Linked DNA regions of Homo sapiens. The protein of the gene in region 1 purifies or fractionates together with the protein of each later gene. This does not show direct contact. Each region holds a gene or a part of one and is shown on either strand. Other genes may lie near its edges.

Region 1 (4,089 bases):
ACCCAGCTATCTTCCTTTTTATTTATTTATTTTTTACAATGGAGTCTCCCAGGCTGGAGTGTAATGGCGCGATCTTGTCTCACTGCAACCTCCGATTCCTGGGTTCAAGCAATCCCCCTGTGTCAGTCTCCTGAATAGCTGGGATTACAGGTGCCCATGACCACGCCCAGCTAATTTTTGTAGTTTTAGTGGAGACGGGGTTTCACCATGTTGGCCAGGCTGGTCTCGAACTCCTGACCTCAGGTAATCCACCCGCCTCCGCCTCCCAAAGTGGTGGAAGTACAGGCGTGAGGCACTGTGCCCGGCCCCTTTCTTTTCTTTCCTCTCTTTTCTTCCTTTTAGCTCTCTCTCTTTTTTTCAGACAGGGTCTTGCTCTGCAGTGATCAGGGCTCACTGCAGCCTCGAACCCCTGGGTTCAAGCCATCCTCCTGTCTCAGCCTCCCGAGTAGCTGGGACTACAGGCGCGTGTCACCATGCCCGGCTAATTTTTAAAATATTTTGCAGAGGCGAGGGTCTCCCTAAGTTGGTAGGGCGTGTCTCAAGCCTGGCCTCAAGCGATCCTCCCGCCTCGGCCTCCCTAATAGTATTGGGATTACAGGCGTGAGCCACCGCGCTAGGCTTGCTGAAATTATCTTTAAATAAGTTGTTAAAAGACCACCAACACATTGAACGGCTTTCTCTTGCTCCCTAGCTGCATGATATTGCTTCGAGTTTGTTTCGGTGTGAGCAATCTGAGTCGCCGGACCCTCTCGAGTCTGACTTTCACTCTGACAATCGGTCCGTGGCTTTACGAATCTGAATCGGAGTCCCCTTGATAGCTCCGCTGGGGAACAGCAAACTACGAGGTTCAAATGGTGGCTCTCGGGACTTAGTGAGGATCCAGGGATGTGGGCTTCCTAAAGCCCCGAACCTCCCACACTGCAGACTATCCCTCGCATAGCGAGAACAAGAGTAACAACCCCCTTACACCCCTCTGCTCCCGGGACCCACTGGCTGCCCGTCGCTGACGCCCCCTGGCCGCTGATTGGCTTCCCCTGACAGTGGGCGGAACGCGGCCCCGGATTGGATATCCATTCGCCGTCCCTCACCCGGCACCTGCGTGCACTCTCCGGCGTCCCAAGTGAGTGGAGGGGGGATCCCGACTCCAGTCCGGGGCCTTGGCCAGCGGAGCCGCGCTATTCGGAAGCGGGAATCCCACTCAGAGCCCGGGCCTGTAGGGGCGGGGCGTCCCGGGCACCCGGGATTGGGGCGTCTCCCGTCGTGCACCGGGGCACCGGCGACTCACCCGGAAGGAGAAGCCGTGATCTGGCTATATGGTGGGGCGCGGGCGGTGTCGCTGTGGGGAGCTGGTGCTGTTCTCAGGTGAGAGGGCGTGGGCGGGGCCTGGGGAGTGGGTGCTGCTCTCCTGTGAGGGGGCGTGGGCTTGAGCGTCAGTAGTGGCACTCGGGATGGTGGCATCGCTTTACATCCTAGGGAGGGACTCTCTTACCACCCGGGATTAAGGCAAGGGCTTGCTCGGGATCCAAGAAAGGAAACCCGGCTTTTCAGTTTACCTTCAAAGTGTATCTTTCACTTCCTACCCCCCAAGCTTAATCGGAAAGAAAGAAGGACCATGTGGACCTTTCGGTCCTAGTTTGTTGAGAATGGAGAAAGAGTGGCCGTAGTAAAAGACTCTGGGGACATTTACTTAAATGGCTAAGACTGGGGGCAATGGCGAGTATTTTACGTGGACACGGGAGACTTGGCGGTAGATTGTGGTCGCCTTTGTTACTTACCTTCCAAGTGAAAGGCGTACGATTAGAGATGGACAAAAAGATGGAGCATAACTGCTTGGTTGAGATCACACAGAGCTTGGTCAGAACTGGGAGCTTCCTCTGTTTAGTACCTGTGATATTTATAATTGGAGCGAGAGCTTTTTGAATTGCTTTCTGCCATCTGGCACTAAAGGCTCAAGATTGAGTAAGAAGGGACGGTAGTCTCAGTAGTTCCATCTACTTTTATCACCTGATTTGTTTCTTAACCTGTCTCTTGAAGTTGTTTAAATGGGAGAGAAAATAAATGGTGAGACTAAAGCCTTGCATTGTTACTATATTAGAAAGCTTTACGATGAATCTACTTTGTAAACAGCAAACAATCGGGTACTCACCAGAGCTACTGGTGCTGGTACAGGTGAAGAAAGTAAAGGAAACTTCAGATGTGGTTGAAAGGGCCCAGAAAATGTAGTTAACACTAAGTTATGTAACTAGCTATGGTCACTGACTCTAGCCTTATTTGGATGAAGTACAGATCCATCTCCCAGATCAGAGAACTAAAGTTAGGAACTTCCTGCTGCTTCTCCAGAGGCAGAACTGAGCTTTTTCTTTTGAGGAGTGGTATCTGTGGGGAGGAATCTAATGGAGAAGAGTGGTTGCTAGAAATTACTACTTGGTGTCTAGGTTTTTGTATTTGTTCCAGTGTTTATTTGTTTGTTTTTTGAGACAGGGTCTTGCTCTGTCGCCCAGGCTGGAGTGCAGTGGTGTGATCTTGGCTCATTGCAGACTCCGCCTCCTGGGTTCCAGCAATTCTCATGCCTCAGTCTCCCGAGTAGCTGGGAGTACAGGCCTGTGCCACCATGCCCAGCTAATTTTTGTATTTTTAGTAGAGACGAAGTTTTGCCTTGTTGGCCAGGCTGTTCTTGAACTCCTGGCCTCAAGTGTTCTGCCCGCCTCAGCTTCCCAAAGTGTTGGATTACAGGCGTGAGCCACTGGGCCAGCCCAGTGTTTTTAAGGACAGTTACAACTGAAACTTTCTTTTTTTTTTTTTGAGACGGAGTCTCACTCTGTTGCCAGGATGGAGTGCAGTGGTGCGATCTCGGCTCACTGCAACCTCCACCTCCTGGGTTCAACTGATTCTCCTGCCTCAGTCTCCCGAGTAGCTGGGACTACAGGCACGCGCCACCATGCCCAGCTAATTTTTGTATTTTTAGTAAAGAAGGGGTTTCACCATGTTGGCCAGGATGGTCTCAATCTCTTGACCTCGTATTTCGCCCGCCTCGGCCTCCCAAAGTGCTGGGATTACAGACGTGAGCCACCGCACCCGGCCCATCTGGAGGTTTTTTGTTTTTTGTGTTTTTTTTTTTGACAACGGAGTCTTGCACTGTCGCCTGGGCTGGAGTGCAGTGGCGCGATCTCGGCTCACTGCAACCTCCGCCTCCCGGGTTCAAGTGATTCTCCTGCTTCAGTCTCCCAAGTAGGTGGGATTACAGGCGCCTGCCACCACGCCCGCTAATTTTTTTTATTTTTAGTAGAGACGGAGTTTCATTACGTTGGCCAGGCTGGTGTCTGGAGGTTTTTAAAAAGCCAGTTCATAGCTATTTGTTTCTGAGTGGTATTGGCCCCAAAGGAAAGAAGAATTTCTTCATGAAGGTAGTGCAGGGCCCTATACAAACTTCCTGAGACCAAGGGTATGATGATCATTTCGTTCCTAAATTATGGTCCTGAATTTGACAAACCTTTTTCAAGGCACAAAAGATGTATGAGCTCCACTGAGTGGATGACTGTGATTTCCTTGTCATCGTCTTTCCCGTTGTTAGTTTTGTTTAAAGACACTTCAGAATATTTAACTCTCTGCTCCTGTGCTGGCAGTTTATCCAATGCCTGCAAAGAGAAGAGAAAAAAAAAACTTAAGGAGGTTCATTGTTCACAGCAAATAGGTCTGCTCTTTTTGGTCTCAGACATTTGACTGATATCTGGAATGTTATATATGGGTTGTTATGGAATTGGAATTTCCCACCTTTCAGTTCAGGACCCCTTGGAGGTGGTGGCTGCATCAGATAAAAATCAGATTGTCAGCAAGAATACCATTTAAGATGGTACTGAAATCACAAAACCTTAGGTTTGCTCAATATTGTGTAGCCCAATTTTGTCATGGACCATGCAGCTTCGTTTCTGCATGCAGTGTTTGTCTGTGGAGATACTTCTGGTATATTGGAGAGAATTGAAAAAGTGGTTTGCTTTGCTAATTTCATGGTGTAAATGAGTTCCCCTTCTTTTGAAATGTTAGCCTTGTGTTAGCAAAACATAAAATAGAAGGAAACTCATTACACAGTGT
Region 2 (2,922 bases), on another chromosome or scaffold:
CAGACAAGCCTGAAAGACATTTTTAGACCCACTTCAGTTGGAAAGATAACGGTTAAAATTTTCCATTTTTAACCACAATGGAAGTAAAAATCTGGCAATGCATACCAAAGGTTTGGAGTCGCTGAGGACGTGGTACTGCAGGAACTGATGCAGCATATAAAAGAGGTTGTGCTGGACAAGGGTTTTGATAACAAGTTCATGTAGGTAATGCTGAGGACAAAAGTAAAAAGTGAAAGAACACTTCCAAATCATTCAGCTACAACAGACTAGAGGCTCCCCAAGGACTGGCTATTCTAACCAACACAGTAAAAGTCTGTCATTACAAGAAGTGGTTTCGTCATGCAGGTAAAGACCCCAACTTGACCTTACACTTCCCATTCCAACTAATAATGTCAGGAGTCACTCAGCATTCTGAGTCAGGGAGGCAGACCTGTCTTAGCATATGAGTCATCTTCTAAGACAGTGACTGTGTTTTTTTTTTAAATTCCTTCTGTTTTAACTTGGGCCCAGATGATTTGAAGGTACCTGTACTGCAATCTGAAACTGGTTAAGAGAACGAATGTATTCCATCAGCACGGCTATCACAAATTTATGAGGCATCTCCTAGGGAGAAAAAAATGTGGTCTTACAAATACCAACGAGGTGCAAAAGAGGCTGCATATAACTCTCTATCCAACCCCCACCTTGTTTCCATCTTAAAATGGCCCAGTGTTCATCTTTCACTGGTTTTGCACACATCGCTCCAGAACCACCCGTCAACAATTATGCTTTAGGCCTCAGCATTAGAAGCCAAACTACCAGCTCTAGGGCCTCACCCAAGGAAACTCCAGTGATTCTAATCACTTCAAGTGACTCTAATCACATGAAGTCTCCTCGTTTTCAGCAACTTCCTTGTTTTGAGCATTCTCAGTCCAGAAGAGGCGGAAAGCTGCAGCCCACCTTCTTTTCCACAAAGGCTGACAGGACATGGGTGTACACATCTGACTGGTCCAGCACCGCCTGGGTCCGCACCGGCCTCTTGAGGAGCGGGCTGCTTCGGCTCTGCCCTGCTTCCACCGCCTGAAAGAAAAAAACCACAAACTATGATCTTCGGCATCTTAGAGGAAGGGTGCTGTTTACAGTTCATCCACAAGGACTGAATTCTTCGATGTGGACCCAGGATATGAGCGGAAAACACTTTCTCTACTTAGATACAACTTTTTCCTGTGCGCATGCCTGTAATCCCAGCTACTCAGGAGGCTGAGGCAGGAGAATCCCTTGAACCCAGGAGGCAGAGGTTGCGGTGAGCCAAGATCTCACCATTGCACTCCAGCCTGGGCAATAAGAACAAAACTCCGTCTCAAAAAAAAAAAAGCAGTTCAGATCCGTGCAGATTATGCAATAGCTGTGGGGTGTAGCCTGAGAACTTGCATTTCCAAGAAACTCCAGATGCTGCTCATGTGGCTGGTCAGTGGCCCACACTGCTGAGTCATGACGGTTTATGGAGCCCAGCAGACCGTGTGGGACGGCACAGAAACTGCCATTTGGGATCAGACCTACTGATTCCCACAGCCCAGAACACCCACAGCAATAGAGTCCAAAAGGACTCAGCCATCCCTCACGTCTGGCAGCGTAGGAATGGACACTGTCCCAGCAACTGGCCCTCTTCAGTGCCTGTCTCAGACCTCTTACCCTTCCATGAACAGCTAAAGGGGAGTGGAGTTCTGGGGCTTTTGTTGGTTTAAAACCATTTTCAGCCTAGGACTAATCAGATCCTGGAATTGAAATAATTCATTCTCCTTGTCCTAAACTTTTCTTCTGGCTTCAGAAGATATGATGTACAAGTAATACAGCGGGAATTGGTGGCGATAAGCCATGGTTATTACCTTGACTACAAACACGCCTGCTAAGTGCTAACACTGAATCGTCACTATCTCAACAGGATTCTTTCCCAAAAGGGAAGAAAGGTGTGGCAAATATAAATATTTCTAATTTAATTTTCTAAGTCCTCACTCTGGCATAACAGAAAAATATACAAAATATTGCAAAGCAGAGACTGATTTTTCTCATCTATAACAGTAGACCAAGGATCTACAGGCAAGATCAAACACAGATGGGAAAAACAAAAACAGTGAAGGTATGAAGTGAGATGCAGCCGCCAGCTCGTGGGATGCAGGGACCCTGAATTTACTACTCCTCCACTATCCCCCACTACTGCCACCTTGCCCTATGGCAGGCGGCAAATCTCAGCGACCTTATTCTAATATATAGGAAACAATTTTGCATCATAATTACTTAGAAAATACCCGGGAGGGGGTGGGGGAGGAGGACCCTTTGTCATACTCCATGTAACTCACCATCGCATAACTCTGCTCGGCATCCAGGTACTTTTTATACTCATGGTTGAGTTTATCAAAAACAGTGGCTATCACGGGCAGCGATGCTCTGTCTGACTCACTTAACACTGGAAAGGCACAATGTTCACACACGGATCAAACCAACTTCATGTCAGCTTCAGAATTTCCACACGTTGCTATGATAAAAACTAATCTCAAAAGGTTACCAATGCAAAAGTACCTTTAAAGGACACTCTACTTTAAAGACCTGACAGCTAGATGTCATTCGCAACCCCTTTCTGGTTACGGTTAAAAAAAAAAAAAAAAAAAAAAGCTATAGCAGGCCAGGCTCAGTGGCACATGCCTATAATCCCAGCACTTTGGGTAGGCCGAGGCAGAAGGATCACTTAACGCTGGGAGTTTGAGACCAGCCTGGGCAACAAGGCAAGACCCCATCTATACCAAAACAAAAACAAACACCAACAGCACATATTGGTAGGGGATTATTATTATTATTTTTTTTTGGATACAGGGTCTTGCTCTGTCGCCCAGGCTGGAGGTACACTGACACAAACGGCTCGCTGCAGCCTCGTCCTCCCGGGCTCAA

The links.
Region 2: the proteins of SNX11 (region 1) and RMC1 purify together in Homo sapiens (affinity purification with mass spectrometry, with the first as the bait; one large-scale study listed by BioGRID). This does not show direct contact.

What each region holds. Positions count from the first base shown.
Region 1 is NC_000017.11:48,106,477-48,110,565, forward strand, and holds the start of SNX11 (sorting nexin-11), read left to right. Parts: upstream 1-1,289; 5' UTR 1,290-1,362; intron 1,363-4,089. UniProt on the Homo sapiens protein: Phosphoinositide-binding protein involved in protein sorting and membrane trafficking in endosomes. Regulates the levels of TRPV3 by promoting its trafficking from the cell membrane to lysosome for degradation.
Region 2 is NC_000018.10:23,527,316-23,530,237, reverse strand, and holds part of RMC1 (regulator of MON1-CCZ1 complex), read right to left. Parts: intron 2,444-2,922; coding exon 2,337-2,443; intron 2,032-2,336; exon of another isoform or gene 1,060-2,031; coding exon 940-1,059; exon of another isoform or gene 901-939; coding exon of another isoform or gene 884-900; exon of another isoform or gene 604-883; coding exon 526-603; coding exon of another isoform or gene 511-525; intron 211-510; coding exon 106-210; intron 10-105; coding exon 1-9. UniProt on the Homo sapiens protein: Component of the CCZ1-MON1 RAB7A guanine exchange factor (GEF). Acts as a positive regulator of CCZ1-MON1A/B function necessary for endosomal/autophagic flux and efficient RAB7A localization.